2 separate regions of the Homo sapiens genome follow, and region 2 is linked to region 1. Evidence: fine-mapped QTL for protein levels in blood plasma. A gene starts in region 1. The other region holds a variant in brackets. All regions are shown on one strand. Distances are from middle to middle.

What was found. PIP is the posterior inclusion probability: the model's chance that the variant is causal. Protein levels are from antibody-based Olink assays in UK Biobank. Linkage for the fine-mapping came from a reference panel and not from the study's own genotypes, which makes the PIPs less certain.
Region 2: its variant is fine-mapped to the plasma level of the COL2A1 protein (UK Biobank, PIP 0.98).

The regions. Positions count from the first base shown.
Region 1 is chr12:48,001,502-48,012,723 of GRCh38, forward strand. COL2A1 (collagen type II alpha 1 chain) reads right to left here and starts at 2,975. Exons shown (of 54, transcript NM_001844.5): 1 at 2,736-2,975. The coding sequence starts at 2,820. RefSeq lists enhancers at 8,845-9,346, 9,347-9,846.
Region 2 is chr12:48,022,780-48,034,297 of GRCh38, forward strand. It overlaps LOC105369750 (a long non-coding RNA gene), which reads left to right. Exons shown (of 4, transcript XR_944904.3): 3 at 6,992-7,139; 4 at 8,310-8,669. Among named protein-coding and RNA genes, the nearest start is that of COL2A1, 24 kb to the left of the region's middle. The variant G/A (reference allele first, on the strand shown) is at 5,927.

The sequences.
Region 1 (11,222 bases):
CCAGCCCAGACTACAGGAGAGCCCACCCTCGCCCATGAGGACCCAGGGAGGAGAGGGGGAAATGCTAGGAGAGGGGCCACTCCCCGTGCGGATCAGATTTCCCGGGGAAGGGCGGCCCGGGAAGCGCCGGCGCAGGGGCGGGGCCAGGCTGCGCTGGGTGTAAGAGCCGCTGAGTGACTCTGTGGCTGCGGCTCTGGACACGGCTCGCTCACAGACACCGGGAGAGTGAAAAGTGGGATTAAATGACTGCCCCAGAAAGGAGCCAGCGCCGTAACCGGATCCCCTAGGTGTGGACGGAGGAGCCCAGCACCACCATAATTGCTGCTCCAAAACGGCTGCCGATAGCATCCCGGCGCGCCTGATCCGGTTCCCCTCATTACCGCAGGGCCGTATAAGTGATTCTTTGTGGCAAGCCAATTAAAAAGCTACCTCTTTCGGGGAACTGTTTTGCTTCACCGCCGCTCTGCGCAGGGCTGGAGCCGAGAGGTGGCGGCGGGCGGGCACAGGGGGGCATTGTGGGAGAGGGGGTCTGGGAGTACGAGAGAACCCACTGGACCTCGTCTCTCATGAATGGGGCTTTTCTCGAGCGCACACAGAGCCCGATTCACAGGTCTCCGCGAGGAACCAGTTTAAATAAATACGGGCAGCGTTTCAGCCCCATCTGGAAGCCATCGCTGCCAATCTCCCAATGCAAACAAGCCTCACAAAGGAGGATTGAGATCTCTCCCCTGAGCCAGGGGCACTTTCGGAGGCGAGGGCTCTGAAATGCAGATGAGGGTCAAAGACGCCGCCGCCAGTAAGTTTCTCAAACTCGTGGAAAGATGGAGAGGAGGGGTGTGGCCGAGCTCTAGGTGTCTGACATTCCTGACGTCCACGCAGACTGCGCATTTCCCCACGTCACACCTTTGGGTCCGCTGACCCCAGGCGGGGGAAGTTATAAAAGGTGGGATGCTCCAGGGCGCAAAATCAGCCTCTCGGATGCAGAATCACACTCCCTCTGGGAGGAGGAGCGACTGGAAGGTTTGGGCCGGAGAAGCTGTGGAATCACTCCCTCCCAGGAAAGATGCGGCGATGAGAGAGCTCTACCGCCTAATTAAGCAAGCGACCCTAATACCGGATGGAGAATTTGAGAATTATTTTAAAGCCACCCAGCTAATTCCATTGCGCACTAAGGCAGGGGTCAGTCAAGAAGACAGCTTTGTGGGCGTGTGCTTGTAAATGTAGTACAAAAATATAGTCAGTCTGAGTCCAGGCCACGTATAGTCACGCTGTATTCCTCAAATGCCCAGGAGCGCGCCTCCAGCTTAGCGCACTACCGGGTGACCCGGCCAGAGTCTCCTGCTCCCGGCTCCTCGCAGCTGCGCCGCAGGCTCCAGCCCTGCCCCCGCTGCGCTAATGACCGGAAAGCCCGCCTGAGCCCGCCGCCTTCCACGCTATCCCTGGAAACAGCCTGGTGGCAGGAGAGGGCCCACAGAGCCTCGAAGGCAGAGAACTTTTATTCCCCCCGCCGAAGAGTTTCCCTCTGCGATTGATTTACAATCTGTAACATACAAAGACAGGGCTGGAATCCCAGCCGTCGGAAACGTGCCCAAACACGTGGAAAAAAAAATCCTCTCTACCTAATACACTTTCCAGGCTTCGTTTGTCCTGAATATAATCCCAGACAGTGGACCTTACCAAAGGAGGGGTAGAAAGGTGCAGTCCGAACAGCATTTGGACCCGACTACAAGAGCCATCTCTAACTATACCGGTTGAAATAGTTGTAGCAACCGTAGCAATCGACCAGCCTGCTCCCCTTCCCTGACACACACATACACACACACACACGCACACACACACACACCACGCAGCCTGGCTCGGTGAGTTCCAGAATTTAGAAAAGTAACTCATTGTAGTACCTCGGGGCGGCGGGGAATGGGGTAAGACCGCGGGGAAGGGGGCGCTATTTTCGGGGGCATTTGAAAAGCACGGTCTGGTTGGAATGTTATCGTCTTTCAGATGGCCTCTCCTACTGGAAGTTTCTGTACCCTTTATCAGAAGAGAGGCGCAGGCGGACGGAGGGAAGTCGAGATGAGCGCTAGGGCTGCACCTTGCTCCAGGGCCAGCTGGGAGGGGGAGGGTACCCTAAAGAGGCGCTGAGGTCTCAGAGGGCCTATCGGAAGCCGTTCTTTGTGGCCTGGGATTTCAGCCCACCAGTGTCAGAGTGTTAGTCCCCTTTGTCTAACTCTGCTTTGAGCCCACCAGCCACCAAGCCTTGGACAGGCTGTGAAGTCAACCCTTTGGCGTTTGCTTGCTCCCTCGCTCGCGCTCTCTCTTTCCTACTTCACCTAAGTTCGATGAGTTGAGATCTGTTTTTGCTGAACTCGAAGTGCTTCGAAGAGGCGAGCTGTGTGCATGTGCGCCTAATTATCAAAGCTGGTGGAAAAGAGCCCATTTATATCTGTGCGCAAACTTCTCCGAGCCAACACTTTGCAAGTTCAGTATTCTAGCGCAACGTAGGGACCTGCAAATACTTGCAACTGCGATGGGCACCGAGGACCCTGGGACAGAGTCCTTGATTGGCAGAACTCTTCTTGGTGAACTTCTGCGTGTCCTGTGCCTAAGTCGGCGCGCTACGACCCCGGGAGCCGTTTTAGCCCGGAGCCGCGGGCTCCAGAGCTGGAGCGGGCCGGGGAGAAGGATGCTGAGGGACGCATGGAAAGCAGGCAGGCAGGCAGGGGCGGGGGAAGACTTACGGACATCCTGGCCCTGACACCGAAGGACAGCGGCGACGAGCAGCGTCAGCAGCACCAGCGTCTGGGGAGCCCCGAGGCGAATCATGGCTCACCGCGGGGCCTGGCTGAGCCGGGCCCGGGCGGAGCGCAGCGAAACGGCAGGAGCACGGCGCGGGTCCGGGTCTCTACCGCGCCCTCATGCAGGAGGCCCTTGGAGCAGGAGGGGGAAGCGGGAGACCCGGCAGCCCAGCAGCGCTCTGCGTCTTCTCCCCGCCGCGGCGCCCGTTATATGCGCCCGGCCCCTTTCGAGGCTGGCGAACTCGCCCAAACCGCGGGCCGCCCCCTGCCCCCCGCTGGGCTGTAACCTGAACCGCCCGCCCCCGGAGCCCGCCTGGGCCCTGCCAGTGCCCGCACCTGCCCAAGCCGGACCCCCCTCTCTGGGAGTCACGCTTCCCGCCCTCCACCCCTAGTGCGCCGAGTGGCCTGATCGGGCGGGGCGCAGAGATGGCCCCTGCCCCCCAAACCCGGGGCTGCGGCGCTGCCCCCCTCTGACCACAGGCGGGAAGGGTGGCCTCCGGCCCCTCCCCTCGGAGTTCTGCCGGAGTTGGAGGGGAGGGGGTGTTTGCAGAGGCGCAGGCCGAGAGCCCTAGACCAAGGACGGAAAAGACATGGGAGGGAGGAGGGAAAGCGGTAGAAAGGAGCAGCGGAGGGCGAGGGGGCACCGCGTCAGGCGTTTGGGAGTGGGGACAGGGAGGAGCCCACAGAGATTCAGAGTCCTAAATCTTGGAGACAGGCTAGCTGAGCCAGATCTGAAGGGTTACCCCGACCTATCTTTTAGCCCTTCCCTGCAGTACCTGGTCCCCAGACTCCCACCTGGACGTTCACAGCGACTGCCCTCCACCCCTCCCCCATCCAGCTCTGCGTTGAAGGCTTCCTCTGGAGCACAGGCCGAAGTTGGCCTGAGCCGACAGCCAGGAAAAGAGCTGGTGTGTTACTGCACAGAAGGAGACCTGTGTGAAGGTGTGGGGGGCAGGGGCAGGCCCTGGGAAGGGGACTGAAAGAGCCACAGAGGACGGAGGGAGCCGAGACTAAACGGTGCAAGCTGCCTGCTGTGGGGGGACTGTCTAGCTCCAGGCTCAGACGTGGTGTCTGCTCTTCCTGGCTGGGGTCCGGGAGTCCCCCGGGGAGTGGGCACTGCCGGCCGTCGTAGAGCAGCTTTGGCCAGGGACGGTTGGTCACTGCTGCGGCCCTGGCCAGGGATCGGGGAGGCCGATCCAGCTGGCGAGTTCTGTGAGCCGGGGAGAAGCGCCAGAATTTCCCAGTCGGCCCCCTAGCCCTCCGCTTGCCGCCTCACCTCACCTTCCCCGGTGAGCGCCCTCTCTCACCTTAGCCAAACTGCCTTCTTCCCAGGGCTTAGCTGGTCTCTTCTCTTGGTCTCCGGTGCCTCCTTTCATACCAGGGAGGAAACGTCCCCAAACAGACCTTCCTTTTGAGCGATATGGTCCCCCAAAGAACTATAGGCAAAATGAAACTCAGAATTTGGGGTCTGACTTAACCAGAACTTCTGCCCTCCTGGGCAGTTTTGTTTCTCTGGAGCTTTCCCCCTAGAAGCTGAGAGCACTTGAAAGAAGCTACTTCTGGGCCTTAGGCTTCCACCAGGGGTCCTGGGACCCCATCCCTAGCCTATCATGCTTTGACACTTGTCCTGGTAGAGGCTGGAGTTCCAAGTGCTCTGGTTGGAAAGGGAAAGAACTCATTGTTGAAGGAAATGCTTCTAGGCTTTGTCCAGTCTGGATGGAGATGGGGAAGAATTCAACCAGTTTCCAGCATCTCCCCTACCTTCCACGGGCCTTGTCTGAGTCTCCATGCTCCCATTCAGGGGCTTGCATTAAGCTCTGGGCTCTTCCTCAGGCCCAATCTCTGCTAGAAGAAAGCTGGTCTCTTGCCATCAGTGCCCCATGTCCTCTTTGGGGCTCAGAAGGTCCTATATTCTCTACCTGGAAGATAGAATGACCAAATTCCACACATTTATCAAGACCTCCTAGGTTAAAGCCCCTCTGAGAAGCCTTCTCTGATATCTCTAGAACACAACGTCTCCCTGGCTTTCTGAATCCCCCTGGCATTTATAGCCTAAGCTACATATGTTTTTGTGTAGTTTTAATTTTTTCCCCTTATATCCATTGGTCTTTATCTCATCAATGAGCTTGGAAGATGCTTGGGGACAAGAACTGTGCCTAGCACAATTCTAACACATAGGAGTTAGGAAAGCCCCTGTGGACTAATAATTTAGATACAACTATAAAGGCATTTATACAACTGACTTCAAATACAAGTTGTCATAAAAATTCAACAGAAAAAAAAAGAATTTGGGAGAACACACTAAAGTATGTGGAAAAAATCGAAGCCTAGTTCAAAATGATCCAGTTTAGTGAGTAGCAAAGTGGTACAGACTCGTTGCAAATTTGTTCTTAATTTCATCCTCTAGCTCTGTGATTCATCTTTGCCAATAGACTGTGTCTACATATAAGAGCTTTGGATTCCTTCCAGCAATCATGGTCCATCTATGAGTACAAGTTAAGCTCTCCACCCACTGTGGGAAAATTTCTTTTCACCAGCAACGGGAATTGACATAAGAAAAATAAAATTTAAAATTTAAATTGACAAAGCCAAAATAAACTATGGAAATTATTAAAATTCTAAAGCCAATTGAACACCAACATTAATATTTTACCCATCTGTGACTCCAAACAACTAATTAAAAACCTCTAATTTGTGACTCAAACTGGAATTAGACCTATATGTGGCACACATATGCAAATCACTGATTTGGAAATTGATCGTCCAACAATCTCACTATCCATACCATACCCAAGAAACTGAAAAGAAGGGGAACTAAACCACTAAATAGCCAGAATTGATGTTATATAAAGCTATGCATTTTGTGCACTGTAGAGTCCTTCTTACTCCATGTCTGCTAATTCATAGTTTAGATATTGTATTAACACGTAATGGCATCTGACCTCACCAATTAGATGCAGAAAACTAGAGGTGAGATAGGAAAGCAGCAGTTGTTGATGAAGCACAATGAGAACAGGAAAAAGGGAGAGTAAGAGAGGACACAGAAAAGCAATGTGAAGTTGACACAACAAATACAAAACATGGTAGCCGAAGGTCAGTGGGGTAGGGTCAATGCCCTTACAGTCATCAATGCTTCCAGGGAATATCCCGATCTACAGCATCTGCTGTAGTCCCTGCGATTCATAATGATAAACTGAAATGTCCAATAAAATGCTAATTTAAGTTTAATGTGGTCTCTTTGAGGAGACAGGAAATATGTATTCCATATTTGAGAAAGGTTGTAAATAAATGTTCATTCACTTAATGTGAAAAATATTCTATCATAGCAGTGTCAGACTAATAAGGAAATGCTGCAATTTCTGGAGCCACTGAACTGAAAACAAAGAGCTTCTGTTTTCCCCAGTTGGTAGAAGAAGAGCATCGATGGCCGAGATGAGTGTCCCACATGGCCAGCCTCACTTACACCTTTAAGTACAGCATGGGTAACTGTAGGTAGAACAGTTAGAAATTAAACAGGTACAATAGGGTGCTGTGCCTCACACCTATAATCCCAGCACTTTGGGAGGCCAAGGCCAGAGGATCACTTGAGGTCAGGAGTTTGAGACCAGCATGGCCAATATGGTGAAACCCCATCTCTACAAAAATATGAAAATTAGCTGGGTGTGGCGGTGTGCACCTGTAGTCCCTTAGGAGGCTGAGGCAGGAGAATCTCTTGGACCCGGGAGGCAGAGGTTGCAGTGAGTTGAGATTGCGCCATTGCACTCCAGCCTGGGCAACAGAGCGAGACTTCATCTCAAACAAAAGAAAGAAAGAGAGAGAGAGAGAGAGAGAAAGAAAGAAAGGAAGAAAGAAAGAAAGAAAGAAAGAAAGAAAGAAAGAAAGAAAGAAAGAAAGAAATTAAACAGTCACAATCAGTGTATCTACCCCAAGTCAGCCCAATTCAGAGAAACAGATGGATTAAATCAGCAATATTGTGTCGTGTAGACAAAATAACCATTTCACTATTTTTCTCTCTTTTATGGAGGCATTAAATTTAGACTCAGGTTGACACAGCCTTATTGGGAAAGATATTTGTAGACAGGCTGTAAAGAAAAGATATCTTTCTCTTCCTCTACACAAATCCCATTTAAAAATAGTGATAAAGTGAAGAAGGATTCACATTCCAAAGAGGTAAGCCCACCCCAAATATGGCAGGTGGTGAATGCACAGACTTCACACAGCAGCCGTGCCTGGGGGTGGTGAGCCCAGCTTACTCAGTGACACTCAGCTTCTGTTGGTTGGGCTCCGTTCAGACAGTCTTTCAAGATGTGTTTATGTTTTCCTTTGGCATTTTGGGGGCAGAGTAACAGAATCAAGACTGTCCAGGATAGGGTTTTCCAGATTTATGGTGTACATTCCATTCCATAGGAGCATAAATGTGTTACTATGTATTCTCAAATGCAAATAGCACCAAGAATCCCACCCAGTCTCCTCCATCCTGTCCTAGTGCCATACAAATTCAGCTTAGGACTCGTACTGAGCACCTACTTCTGTATGAGATGGGGATACAGAGAGGATTTAGATACCACCTCTGCATCTGTAGGGGAAATAGGAAAAAAATGATTGTACAAAATGCTGCAAAAAAGGTATCCCACTCTCCCCAACCCCCTAAAAAAAAAGAAGAAGAAAGAAACAGAAAGAAAGGAAAGAAAGAATGGCATTCTGGAAGCCATGGAGTAAGCTGGGGGGAGGTTTCCTAAGAGAAGCATGTCTCCAAGCATGGGTGGGGGTTTGAAATGCAGAGGTACAGTGAGAGGGCAGGATGGCTCCCAAATGGAAGCAACGAAGGGCAGATGCACCAGAAGACATGGCAGTGGCCCCAGGACAATGTGGAGCCATCTGCAGGGCCCTGGGAATAAGACATGGCAGTAAGGGGTGAAGGCAAGGCCAGACATGGAGGACTCCTTGAATGCCACCGAGTCAGGCTCAGATCTACGTTTCTTCTCACTTTCCCCTCTTCTTCTTACCTCCTACTAGCTAGACCTTTGCGGGAAAAGATAAAGGTGTCTGGGCTTTTTAAAGGCTTACATTTTGAAGAAATGTCTGTATTTTTATACAGAAATGATCTTCCCATTTCACTTTAAAAACAAAGACAACAAAAGTCGTGCGAAATATTGCATTTTCTTAAGGTGGGTAGCTTTCTGCCTTTAAGGAGCATTTGTCTCTCTCATCAGCTCTTGATGGTTCTGAGCTCTAGGAAGAACACAAATGCTTAAATGCAGAGATGTTTGAGCACTCCCAGCAGAAGTTCCATGTGAAGCAAATGGTTCTACAGTAAACCACAACCATTCCCAACAGCCACAGAGCATCTGTTCCAGGCACTTCTCAAGCAATAACACAACATGGGGGTTCCAAGGGATACCCTTTGAGAGGTCAACAACCCACGAGACAGGTGGAACTCTCTCTCCCCATCTCTCTCCCTTCCTTGAACTCCTATTGCATTTGGGTATGGCCAGTTCTATGGAGTTATGCCTTTAGATCATCATCCATCCATCTGTCCATCCATCCATCCCTTCCTCCCTCAAACATGTGAAGAAATCCCATGTGAGTCTATTCACATGCCTCCTTGAGAGCAGGGGCCATAACTTAATACACTTAACTTTTCCCCTGCAAAGCCTGCTTGGCACAGTGCGGTCACATAGTAAATGTGGTCCATGGACCAGCGGCATCAACCTACCCTGGGATCTTGTTGGAAAAGCCGAACCTACCAAATCAGAGTTGGCTTTTACTAAACTCTCCAGATAACTCATATGCCCATGAAGGCTGGAGATGTGCTGGTCTAAATCTTGGTCCACGGAAAGTTCCATACGACCCTGGCTAACAGAGGGGTGTGGTCTGCATGGTCTGCAGTCACACATGACTGGGCTCAGGCCTGCACTGGAGGCAGACAAGGCAAGGAGGAGCCTGAGTTAAAGGTGGCAGAAAGGAGAAGTGAGTTTTAAGGAGAGGAATGGATGGAGGACCCTAAAGGAGATGATGGATGCATGACTTTGTAAAGCCTCCTGCGGTCTTTTTTTAAAGCAGGTGGTGGGTCACTTTTCCTATGTCCCTTTTTTCCAGTAGGAATTGGGCTCAGTGCAAGGAAGAGACTGACCCATGATTAGAACTGGAGCCCTGGATTCCATGGAGACAGTGTCAGGGCAGAGCCAGCAGGGGAGCGGAGTCAGCCACCTGAGCCTCCTTCCCGTGGTGGCCCCTTAGCCCTGCCCCCCAGGGACTCCTGACTGATGAACTCCTCCTAGGTGGGACATACCAAGGAAAGCAAGGAGCTAACTATGATGTCCCTAGGACTAGTAGGGTAGATGCCACCTCAGAGAAAGCCAGGCCCCTGCAAACCAAGTTTATCCTGCTCCAGTGCGGGGGGCGGGGGGCAGTGGGCCTGCCCTCTAGGAAGTCCCTGAAAAGCCCCAGGGAACATACATGTGGTAAGTTTCTAGTGAGCTCCTTTGCCAAAAACAACCTTGAGAGGGAGCAGGACAGTGCATGCTGCCCTTCCCCATGAGGGCCCCTCAGCTGTCCCCACACCCAGCACCTATCCGGAGGCAGCCAGGGCCCCATTGTGTTCTGCACCGCCCCGATCTCCACTCCAGCCTCCAGGCCAGCTCCTTAGCTGATCACCCACCCACTGCCCTTGACACTCTCCCTCCCAGAATCCTGGGTGCAAAATCTTGGGGTCCTGCTCGACTGTCTCCCCTTACTCTATCCTCCCTCCTGTCCCATTCCCCCTCTCATTCCTCGGCCAGCATTTCTTCATCCCCTGTGTTGAGCACAAGCTATGCGCCAGGCACTTGCTAGGTGGTATGGAGGGACAAAAGAAAGCTCTATTAGACATGAATCCTACATGCAAGGAGATGACTACCTCTCGGGGGATACACAAAAAGCCAAACTGTAAGGTAAACAAGTTATAATATATTGTGATGTCATGTGGCATTCTATGATGTGCTGTAGCACAATACAATGTCATGGACAGAAGCGCTCTGTTCTGCCCTTTCACTGAAAATAGCTCTTCCTGACACAGGCTTGGGTAGTGAAAGCAGCTTGGTCACATCTGTCCCATGGTGTAACTAATCTTTAGGATCTGCAGAGACCTGCCTTCCTCTGCAATTGTAACTGTACCTCCAATCGTGAGTTTCGTCTGGCAGCTTAACTGGGCTACCAGCGAGGTCCTCATAATGGCTTTTGCTCCTTGCCTCGCGGAGACCCGACTCTGGAATCCTTAGCCAGTGGTATATGAGCTTCTTTCTCATGGGGGATAGGAGGAAAGAATCCTGCATGTGCCCCAGTTTCCTCCCATGCAAGCCTGTCAAGAGGCCCATCTTTATCCTAAAAGTGCCTAGAGGCTGGGCGCGGTGGCTCACGCCTGTAATCCCAACACTTTGGGAGGCCGAGGCGGGCGGATCACCTGAGGTCAGGAGTTCGAGACCAGCCTGACCAACATGGAGAAACTACTAAAAATACAAAAAAATTAGCCGGGCATGGTGGCGGGCACTTGTAATCCCAGCTACTTGGGAGGCTGAGGCAGGAGAATCGCTTGAACCTGGGAGGTGGAGGTTGCAGTGAGCCGAGATTGTGTCATTGCACTCCAGCCTGGGAAACAAGAGCGAAACTCCGTCTCAAGAAAAAAAAAAAGTGCCTAGAAACTTACCACATTCTTAATGCTTTCCTGGGTAAAAATACAAAGAAGTGAGGGTTGGCTGCCTTTTAATTTCCCCAGATTAGATGCTGCAACTGCACTTCCTGGCTCCGTCCTCTTGAGCAAGTGAATTCGCTTCTCTGAGCATCAGAGAAGTAATCGGTAAAACAGGGATAATAGTAATTTACTCATGGGCTTGTTGTGAGCAGTAAATGAAGTAACAAACATAAAGCCTCGGGAGAATGCTTTACACGGGAGGCTTAGAGTAAATGTTTATTATTGCAAGTACTACTCTTCTTGGTCTGCATCTGATTTATTTACCCTTCCTGCACACACCTGCCGTACCACAAATAGACAATATCATTTATCTGTTTTTAATTTGGGTCTCATAAAAATTTTTGTCTTAAGTTATGTTTGCATGAGTTTGGATTATAGCTGATACGATCTAGGTTGATTGATGAATATCCTGGAATTTAAGGTATAGCGCTGAAAACATCTTAATTGTTTTAAAATCTGTTAGGAATAAAAACTAGATTAAGAAACTTTCAATATTACCTGGAAAAAAAAAAAACTTGGCACTGGGGATAAGTGGCCCCAATTCTTCAGCACAAGTTTTCCCTAAGAAGAACAGGAACTTCTAAATTGATCATAAAGGCTCGGAAGGCTTGGATAGGTATTGGCCTTCTCATTAGTTACCAGCTTAAACAAAAAGATAAGTATGATATAACTGTGGGAAGATTACTATTTGGGAAAAAACT
Region 2 (11,518 bases), 21 kb after region 1:
TTTGTGGGTGCAGAGGCATGTTCTTCTCACTCTCACCCCCGCTCTCTATCCTCAGCATCACCCAGAGAGAGGGACCAGAATCCCTGAGGCCATCTTGGTTCATCTGCACCGTCTCTCCTACACCTCTTCACCCCTCCCCTCTCCACTTCACTCCAGGCTGCATTGGGGCGGGGAGGTGATCATCCAAGGCCCTGGCTCTCCATCGAGACCCCAGCCAGGTAGAGCCCCTATTGCCTGAGCAAGCTTGCGCAGGATGGGGCTGGAGCTGCACTATTTGGATCTTCTTGGAGTAGAAAATTCACAAATTCCAACCTCTGCTCCCAAAGCAAACCTCCCCAGCCCAGGTGGCTGCATCCTTCTCCTCCCCTCCCCCCAGTTCCCTGGGTCGCCAAGCCGGAGGCTTTGAAAACCAGCTTGTGTTTGGTTTGTGAAAGCACCAATGTTTGCAATGTTTGCCCAGCAGAGAAGGAGCATATTTTCTCCCTTCCAAATGCAAACTCAAAAGATGCTCCACCAGTTTTTCTTCAGACTTTCCACAGGAAACATAAATAAGAAAGAAAAATGACTTTAGGTGCTGAGACCTGAAATGGAATTTCAACCCTGAAGGAACTGCCTGTAACAAGCACTCTCTGTCCTTCAGTGAAGGCTTCGAGAGCCTAGGTGCATGTTTCTTTCCTCTGAGTAGCCTTCACAGATGAGGCAAGGGGAGGAGCTGAACCAGTTCTTAGACCTGACTCCCAGCTAGATCTTCAGCCCCACACAATGAATGGCCGGTGACTGGCACAGCAGCTGAGATTCCCTGGCTACAGTGTTCTTTTTTATCTTTCTTGATTGTGTTAGGGTAGAACAAATGAGGGTGCTGCAACCCGAGAGGCCCAGCCACACTGCAAGCCAGCACAATCAGAGTGTGAAGTGTGGACACGCCCCCCTGGAACACAAGGCCACAGTTTGCCACCTGCTCTGCCCTTGTCTCCATCTCGGAAGAAGGACATCCCTGATCTGTGGCCTCTGTCCTCACGGATCTTATAATTATCAGACAAACACAACCACAGAGAGGCTGGAAGGCAGTGCTTCAGCATCACACATATATGCATCGGTGACCAGAGTTCTGATTAATCTTAATGCACAGATAATTGGAGCATTTCTTGCTCACAGCTTATAGCCACCAAATGACTGCTTCCAGGTTAGGAGTTTGCAGAATATGTACACACACGGAGCCCTACAAAAGGCTCCAGACCCAAGAAATACAGGGTTGAAGTCAGTGTGGACAGTTCTAATGCAGCTAATACATTCTAACTGATTTGTTGTGAGCTAAGGGTTCAGTGTTTACACTTCAAGGTCACTGTTTCTGTCTCCTGACATCTGAGAACCTTTCTTCTTCTTCTTTTTTTTTTGAGACAGAGTCTTGCCGTGTCATCCAGGCTGGAGTGCAGTGGCATGATCTCGGCTCACTGTAACCTCTGCTTCCCAGGTTCAAGCGATTCTCTTGCCTCAGCCTCCTGAGTAGCTGGGATTATAGGCACCCCCCGCCAGACCTGGCAAATTTTGTATTTTTAGTTTCGCCGTGTTGGCCAGGCTGGTCTCGAACTCCTGGTCTCAAGTGATCCACCCACCTTAGCCTCCCAAAGTGCTGGGATTACAGGCGTGAGCCACCGCGCCTCACCCAAGAACTTTTCTTCTTAAGGTGTTTTCCTTTCCCATAGCATTCTATCTTTGGATAGGCCCAACGAGGCCATTGAGCATCTACCCTTTTTACAAAACATATTATCAATCTTATAGCCCATATGTTTAGTGATAAGTCAACTAAACAAAGCAAGGGACCCCACTGGAAGGTGCTTGTGGGAAGTGTACCCTTCCATCTAGGACTTCACTTTGATGTACCAAATTCTGAGAAAGACCCCAGAAGCCATTTCCTTCTTGCTGAGGTTTATTTATCTTGTTTATCTGAAGCCAGGGCCAATAACCCAAATGGCTTTCAAATGGCTACAAAAGTGTCTCAGCATTCGATTAATCAGTCCCATCACAGACAAGTCAACTAACCTGCAGACCCACGTGCTGTACTCATAGTCGTTGCTGGTTCTGGCAGGGGTGATCTGGGAGGAGGTATTTCCCGGAGGTGTTTCCGAAGGGAGAGGCACTAGCTGAAGTTGGCTCTGAGATTCGAAGCGGAGGAGGAAAGGGAAGGTGGAGTGCTGATGCTGACAAGGTGAGGAAGAGGAGGAGTAGAGGTTACCAGCGCTCAGAGCATGGGTTTTGGAGGCACACAGATCTGTGCCCAAAGGGCTATCAATGCTCTTCCACTTCATTGCTGAGCAACCTGATGTGTTCATACGTTCCCTGATGTGTAAAAGTGGCACAATACTTGCGTCTACCTTATAAAGTGCCTGCAAGCACTAAGACAAAATGTAGACAGAGCTTAATGCAGTGCCGGACTCAGTCAACAAATAGCAAATGGAAGTCGTTCTCATTAAACAGCGAAAAGGAAGTAAAAAGGAAGACAGAGGAAGACAAAGGGGAGATGGGGAGGGGATGCCGTGGGAGGCTGTGGGTGGGGTGCAGAGGCTGACACTGCAGACAGCAGCCCCTCACCCAGCTCCATCTCTGGGCGCCTGGGACAACACAGCTCTCGGTCCAGACAGGCTGCTCAGATGTTTATTAAGAAACCACCCATAAAAGTTATTGGAAACTTTACATTTGCAGCATGGTCTCTGCACACTGCCGAGCTGCCACGGCTCTCAACAAGGCCTCATTCACGGCCCTAGGCAGCTCACTTGCCTGCCCCCAGCCCCTGGGTCTCAAGCCCACCAGGGTGCCTCCCAGCCCCCGCCCCCAGCCCAAGCCTGGCCTCCTTCCCTCCCTTGGGTCTGAGTGATTTTCTGATTTGCCTTTTCCAAATGTGAAATCTTTGAATGAGGTCACTTCAACTGGAGAGCAAGGGATAGGCCACAAGACAATGTTTCCTAAGTGCAAAGGTCCCTGGGTGATTTTAGGTAGAACTTGGATGAAAGTTTTGCATTCTAATAGTGTTATATATAGTATCTATATTTTAATGTACATGTGTATGTATTTTGGCAGGGACCAAACCTGTAAAACAGATTTATTTTAATAAGTATTGGAGGAAAAGGTAGAATATCAATCCCATGTTACAGAGTTTTCATTTCAAGTAAACTTGAGTAAAGTAAAAGAGAATGAGAAAGTTGACTTAAGGAAACCATAAAAACAATCATAGTCTAGGTGACCCTCAGATCTAGCAAATCGATCTGGGAACACTGCATGTGATCTCAGCCCTCACCTAGAGCTGTCTGGACACAGCAGTCTGATGGACACAATTTTGTTCTACACAGGGAGGTCCTGCCCCGGGCTGGTCAGAGAGGGGGCCTGCTCCTTATCCAGAGAGTTCTAGTGACTTGTCCCGGCTCCCTGGGTCATGGTTCTGCCTGTCCCCTCCAGTCTGCACTTGGCCAGACTTTTCTACTGAGACACTGTCTACAGGCACAGGGCAGCTCCTCAGATCAGCACCCAAGGCCCTTCTCATCCAGCTTTCCTGTCTCTGTCCCTGGTTGGCTTCTCCACCAGGCCCAGTGTACTCAGGGCCAGGACGGCGTGGCTCCTCTCTTTGGTTTCCCCTCTGCTTAGACTGCTCTGCTGACACGATTTGCCCACTGGCCTGACTTGTTCCTGCTCCCCCACCTTCTCCCAGGCTCCCAAACCTCCCCCTCCCTGCAAGTGGGGCAGATAGTACAGCATCATGCTCGAGTTCAGGCTCGAGTTCTAATCTTATAACTACTGCTTGCCAGCTCTGTGTGCTTGAGCCAATTGCTTAACCTCTCTGTTACTCAGTTGCCTCATCTGTTATGGGGGGCAATGGCAGCAACATCTTCCTCCTCCCAGGTTTGTTGGGAGAACTGAATGAACAGACAGTACCAGATTCACAGTAACAGCAAGTACACTGCATGGCTGTGCCTTCATTGGAGTTTAGTTCTTGCCAAGAGCAGCCTTTCAGCACTCATTTTCCAGGGAGTAGGTGCTTGATCTGTTGGCTGATTATGGATGTACCATGAGGTGTTTTCTACATACAATCTCTTGATCCCTGAGCCTGAGAGCTGAGTTTCTTTCCTGGATCTAACAGCCCTGTGGAAAGTTGGAGAGCACTTATTCCTGGGCTATCGCACAGCCGTCTCTTCTCTGGAAGGTCTGGTCTCCAGGGCTCTTCGTGGAGCTCATCTTCCTCTGTCAAGTTTGGCCTAGGAGACGGAATCCTCCAGGAGCAGGCCTGGCTGGGGATGCACATAGACCTTCCCCGGCACAGAAAGGACAGTGCCTGGGGACACTCAAGGCCATCTTCTCTGAAGCCCACCCACGTGGACAGACTAGAGAGAAGCCACTAGCACACACCCAGTGTCTCCTTGTGCCAGACACTAAGTTAGGTGCACCCTACAAGGTCCAGGCCCTGGTCCTTCAGCCGTTGCTCAGGTGGCTACAATGACAGCTCCAGAGCCTGGGGATTGGGGCGAGTTCTCCAGAGCCTGGGGGTTGGGGTGAGTTCTCCAGCCGTCAGCCTGTGGCCACCCTGGAGCATGCTCAGAGGGAGCGGGCTCCAGCCTCCTGCCTTCCCTCGCCCCAGGCCTCAGCCTTTTCTGAAAGAAATGTTGTGTTCCCTCGGCCCTCCCCCCTTGCCACATCCCCTTCCTCCCACAGAGCCCGGGTCCCCCAGGCTACAGTCCAGCAGTCCCTCTGTGAGCAGACTTCCAGTGACACATGGCTTTGTTAGAAACCTCATTAGCAGAGACAGAAAGGCGAGAGGCAGCTCAGAGAGGCATTCCAGGTGTCAGTTAAGAGGGGCCGCAGGAGGAAAAGGCCATTAAACCACAACTAAGGTCAGCCCCCGGTAGAATGAAAAAACAATAAACTGAGACCTTGGAGAGTGGTGGGAAGGTAACTGGGGAATTGAGGGAGGGTACCCCTGCCTCAGGCTGGGGAGGGAAGGCCTTGGGTCCTGGAAGGGACACCAGCTTGTCTTGCCTGATGCTGGGAGTCTCAGAGGCTGTTCTGTGTAAACTCCTGGAGGCAGGGACTGGGCCCCAGGAGACTCTGAACCCCGCGCCCAGCGCACGCTCAGCACACCACAGGCACTGGGCACGCGCCTGATGAATGAGTGGAGATTGAGCCTGGCGCACAGGAGGAGGCTGGAGTGCTTGCCATGCATTAGATGCTGGGCTCGGCACTGCCTGTCTGCAAACTCTTCGTACCCCAAGACGTGAGTATTATTAGCTCCCTTTTAAAGACAAGCAAACGTAGACACTAGAATATGTTATTTTGGGGCTCCCCAGACTCTGGGAATTCACTAGAACTCTACCTATTGATACTTGGAACTTCTGAAACAGACACATTCCTTCATTCCAGAATTAGTCATAAAAAGGCTGAATGAGGCCGGGCGTGGTGGCTCACGCCTGTAATCCCAGCACTTTGGGAAGCTGAGGCAAGCAGATCATGAGGTCAAGAGATGGAGACCATCCTGGGCAACATGGTGAAACCCCGTCTCTACTAAAAATACAAAAATTAGCTGGGCGTGGTGACGTGTGCCTGTAGTCCCAGGTACTCAGGAGGCTGAGGCAGGAGAATTGCTTGAACCCGGGAGGCAGAGGTTGCGGTGAGCCGAGATCGCGCCACTGCACTCCAGCCTGGTGACAGAGCGAGACTCCACCTCAAAAGAAAAAAAAAAAAGGCCGAATGCCTGTGGAGGCTAAGGCAGCACACTGAAACTCACTCCTGAAGGGTCATTAGAATGATTGTCTGGTATCTGGAATTCCCTGGCCTGTCAAGGATGATGGGGGCTGCCCTGAGCTGGGGAACATGCTCGGCTGAGGGAGGTGGAGGACAGTGGCAGGCCTGTGTGCACTCCCAGCGTTGCCTCAGTGAGCTGTTT[G/A]CCTTCACTGGGCAGGGACCCACAAGGGTCATGTATTTTTGTCATGCCTGACGGGGAATGCACATGATTTATGAAGTTTTTTTTAACCTGAGGCTTCCTCATAAAAGAGCTTTGAGAAGACTGCAGCCAATCTGGTTATGAAAGGCCTTCCTTTCTGGGATCTGTTAGACAAGATATTGTTGACTGCCTGCCCTCAAGAATGAGGGACCACGTGTGCTCCACCCTAGGTCTGGAATGGCCCAAGACCCCAGGAAAACTGCACGTGGATTTGTACCTTGTTCTCCTATCCCATCTCAGGCTTCTTGCCCTCTACACCCTCTTAGCTGACATTTCTACCCCCAAGAAACCTGCCCCAAGAGATCTCTGAGTCCCTGATCCCTTATGCCCTTGACATCAAAGGTCCAAGCTTCCCTGGACAAGTCACTTGACCTCACTAAGTCTCTTTTCTCATCTGCAAAATGAGCATAAAAATATCCACCTTGAAATCTTCATAGTAAGGGATTCAATCAATGTCTCACCAGCTGGAAAGCTCTCTGAGCTCTCTCTCTCTCCATGTGTCATTTAATCTTGTCTCCCTAGCACCTAACAGAGTGCCAGGCACATAGAGGCCAATACTAAGTGGCAACTTGTAGAAATGACTTCTACTGAATTCAGTGAATTCAGTGATGAGGAATAAGTAAAATGTGTTTGTAAATTGCAAGCACAGTGCCTGGCACTTGGTAAGCATTTAGAAAATTTGGGTTACGCCTGCATTTGAATCTGACTCTCCCCTACAGATGCCGGACCCAAGACTCTGGCCCCAGTGGTGAGGCAGGGACCCCAAGGTTCCAGCCATCTCCTCCTGGCCTGACTGGGGCTGCAGGGGACCTGTGTCAGTCTCCCTCCTTGGCGCCCCCTCCCCCATCCCAGACCCCTGGCCTCTTGATATCCCGGCAGCAGCCCCCACAGCCCCTCTGGGGTGGTGGGCGTCCCTGTGTCGGCACAGCTAGGCTGGGCCCCTCTCCAGGGAAGGGGCTGAAGGGTGTGAAGGACTGGTGTGTATGACTTTGTTTATTTTCTCTGAAGAATCCTGCCTGAGCCCTGCTATAAAAATAACCTGCCTGGAAACCTCATCTCCAAGGGGTAGAAAGAAGCTTTTGTATCCAGGGAAGCTGCTCTAACTGCCTCCCTGTACCTTCGCCTCAGCCCATGCATCAAGGAGGAGCCAGCCAAGGTGATGAGGGGCCAGGGCAAGGGAGAGGGATGTGTGGGGAGGGAGGAGGGGACGGAAGGGCAGCTCAGCAGCCTCTTGCCCTGAGCACGGCAGAAGCCTCTCACTTGTCTGCTCGACCCAGGAAGATCCAAAGGAGGAACTGAGGGAGAGAGAGGGAAAGAGGAAGTCAACAAGAGAAAAAAACACTGGATGTTGAGAGAGACAAGGAGGCCAGGAGACAGAAGATCAAATCCAGGACAGAGGAGGGGCATGGGGAGAGTGGGGAGGAGAGTGAAGTCAAAGGAGAAAGAAAACCAAGAGACGTGTATGCAGAGACACAGAGCTCAAGGGATCAGAAAGAGGCTGTGGCCATGTTTACAGACGTAGCTTAGCATGTGGTCCCCACCACCAAGGGAGAAAGCAGGCACAGCCAGGCTGTCCCTGCCACCTGCTGGGTTCCTGCTCTGCTGCACAGCCCAGCTTCCACTCTGGCTCAGGCTGTGGCAGAAAAGACAAAGGTCCCCCGAGCACCCACTATGGCCAGGCCCTGGGTGAGGCATGAGACCAAGCCCCACTAAGGCTTCTCAAAGTGTTCCTTCCCAGGAGCCAGGCCTGATGGCACGGAGCAAGTCTGCACTGTCACCAAATTCAGGAGGCCTGGATTCAAGTCCCAGTTCTCCTGCTTTTTAGCTGGGTGATCTTGTACAAACCACTTAGAATTTCCCAGCCTGGTTCTCTTATCTGTAAACCATAAATAGTAAACCTCCCTGTCTACCTCCCGGGGCTGTTGAGCAGATCTATGGAAGCATATCTGAACAGGTTCTCCAAGTTGTATGGTGCCAGCAAGACAAGAGGGAATGACCCATTCCTTTAGCCATATTTCTCTAGGTAGCCATCTTAGGATCATGGGTGAGCCATACGGAGAATGAACCAACATAGGAAACTCCTATTACCTCTGTTTTCACAGTAGAGGAAACTGAGGCTTAAACAGGTTAGTAACATGCTCACCATCGTGTATTAATAGCTCTTAGGCAACAGAACATGAATCCAGGTCTCTATATTCAGAGTCTGTGTAGACCCAGAGTGCTGGGCCTTCTCTCCAATCTAATGGCAGAGGCTGCCCAAGAATGACCTGGGACAGTCTGCTCCACTTCCTTTAAGGATGAATTAATTTCCAATTGTTCTATGCAGGCCAGACCTATCTCTCCTTGGAGACTGCACAAGCAGGTGAGCATTAAAGGAAGGCGGGAGGCCAATTTTTGCCCAGCATTAGGAAGAACATTGCTATTGTTCCAGCAATGAAGTGAGCTGCCTGAGAGAGTCCGAGCTCTCTGTGGCTGCGAGGCCAGCAGGCCAGGACTTGCAGAGACCACTGGTGCCTATAGGAGGCACATGCTGGGCTTGACAAAAGAAAGCCCAACATTTTATACCCCTTAAGTCATCCCCAGCCCATGCCTTGTTTCCCCATCCGCACAGTGGTTGGAGCAAGACTAGATGAAGGCTGAGGTCTTGTCTAGCTCTAACTTTCTAGAATTCTGGAATTCCTGAAGGCAGGACTCCAGGCCTCAGGGTCTGGCCAAGAGAACAGAGACGTGGCTGTTTGTCCAGCTTGGTAGAACAGTGGAGCTTATTGAGCTTGCGGTTCCCTGAAACAGAACCAGTCAAAAGGCATACGCAGAGAAGGTAAATTCATCTGTGGGTCTGGTGAGAGTCACTGAAAAAAATGTAGTGCTTGAGGACTGTCCAAGGAGAGCCAATTTTCAACTCATAGCCTGTGATGCTGCGCCCAAACAATGAGAACAGCACACTGGGCTTCATCCAACCACGGCCAGAGGGAAAACAGTGATCTTGCAGATGATGTCCTCATCGATAGCACAGTGACCAAGCGGCCCTGCATGGTGGGGGCCCCTTAAAATGGTTCCCCTTCCCTTGCAGGCCTGGTCAGGTGGTGTTTGTAAAGCAAAGGGAACCCTTTTAGAAATTTGCCTTGAATTAAACGATTGTTGTTCATGAGACCAAGAAGTGTTTATTTCAGCAACAGAAAGACCTTCCTAAGTTTTGAGCCCAGAATTAGAGTGAGGCGGGCTGGGGTCTACTCCCTGGATATGTTTGAGTTAGACTAGAGGCTGGGAAGTGGACAAGATGCTGTTGTAAAGCTTCTAGTGATCGCTATGGGACGTTCCTTCCACTCTTTGCTCTAATGACGATTAATGTTGATGCAGTGACTATTTTAATGTGCTTAGACACCTGCAACCCCATTTGGCCTTCACTACAATATGCGAAGTAACTGGCTAATATTATGTAGGTAGTAAATAGATAAGATTATGCCCATCTTAGGAGAAAATGGAGGATCAGAGAGGGTAATTCTAAGGGCCCTCAGTTAGCAAATGATGGCTTTGAGGCTTGAACCTAAGCCTCTTGGCCCCAAATGCTGTGCTCTTCATAGCACTCTGCCATCCCTCTGCCCCCATTTTGGGGCCATGCAGGGCTGATTTTTCCAGGCTGCTTTTTCTCTTGTTTAGGGACAGTGCAAAACTATTGGAGCTGGATTAAAACCTTTACAAATACCAAGTTTTGAAACGATTGGTATTCAAAATGAAAGCAATTCTAACGATTAAGTATAAAGAAGTCTGACGAAGTTCTAACTTTTGCCATGAGGATTACTTTGATGCTTTAAAAATATGAAATATCAGAAATTAAATCTTAATTTTTTATATAGTACCCCTGCCTTCCTGTGCCTTAAGTAGTTTCTAGTCTGTCCTTGGCCCACCTAGTCCTGAGGACTTCCTAACACCACAAGCCCCAGAGCAGAAAGACAGGCTGTACCAGAGCGGAGCAGGAGGTGACTGTTGAGCAGGAGCAGGGAGCAGGAGAGGTTTTGGGAGTGGGGCCCAGGCAAGCAGGAGGAGCCAGAGAAAGTTAGGCTCCCACAGAGCTGTGAATCATATTCTTCCTGAGCTTAGGAAATGCAACAGTGACTGCCATTCCTACCCTCAGGAGGAGACAGACCTCAGATCCAGAAGGGCCATAGCAAAAAAGTGGAAGAAAACCAGTCTTAGGAGTGTCCAGTAAGAGAAGTAGAAAAGGCACTAGAGATGCCCTGATTCCCTGCTCCCAGTGGAGCTGACTCTACCCTCCAGAACCTTCAGGCTGGGACTCCTTCCTGCATTCTCTGGTTCCTTCTAGATGCCAGTCTGGGGATGAAGAAGGCTGGAGTTCAGTTCAAGGGAACCTGTCAAGTATCCCACTGGCATATTTTCCAGTCTTCCTCACTCTTTCTGATAGCATAGAGGCTGGAAGGGGGCAATGGAAGGGATTACAGGAAGAAGACAGAGAAAACAGTGTTAGCAAGTGGATTCTGAGTCCTTTAATAATCAATAATAATTAATATTAATAACTACAAATTAATAAGCATCTGCAAAACTCTTTTAAGTAATATAAACAGCTAATAAGTCTTTCATTCCTGGCCTCCAAAAGAAGTAAAATGTTTGTTTGGGGAGCAGCCGGCTTACAGGACTTCCACTGATTCTTCCTAACACAGTCCCTCCTGCCCACCCCATCTCCCTAGCAGTCCTGTCCCTTGTCCCTGAGCCACCCATCCTTTTAAAAATCCTGTAGAGTGATGAGGGCTGGCTGTTTTCTGGCTGATGGTGGGAGGGGCTGGAGACCCCTGTATGTTGGTGGGGCAGCCCAAGGTCCCTGAGGACCCAGGGGTGGAGAGCTTCTTGTGGAAGCTGGAACAGTGAACAAAGAGGCTTTTGAGCAAGTCCTCAGCAAAAGCTCTGGAGAGCCAGTGGCTTCAGCCAGCCTCCCAGCTGCCCTCATACCCCCAAGGACTGGCTGAGGTAGACTGCTGGCTCTGGCCTCTTCTCCCCAGAGAGATCCCTTATGCAGCTTTGTGCCCCAAATGCTGCACCGCAGTGCCCAATGCATCTGAAATGTCACCAGAGATGGGGTCATCCCCCCAAAAATGTCCTCTCATTCCTTCTCTTTTCTAAGAGTAGAGACTTTGGAGTCAGACAGATCTTCTGTCAGTGCTAGTGTCTTCTATTTGCTGGTTGAGTGATCCCGAGCAACTGACGATCTCCATGAGCCTCAGTTTCCTCATATGTGAAATGGAAATAATGGTATTATGTACTTTATTGATTTGTTACACAATGCCTGGCACATAGTAAGCACTCAGTAGACACCAGTATCATGGTTATTATTCCTGATATTCACCCATCCTCCATTCCATCTTGCCCCATGGCTCCTGCTAGACTGGACCCCATTCAAGAAAGGGGTCCATCCAATGAGAAAGCATCAGTCTGACCCAGAGCTGAGCTCTTCCTGGATGTGATAGGGGCCTGTGGTTCCACAACCTAGGGGTATAGGATTGGGGTCATGTAGGGGAACTAACT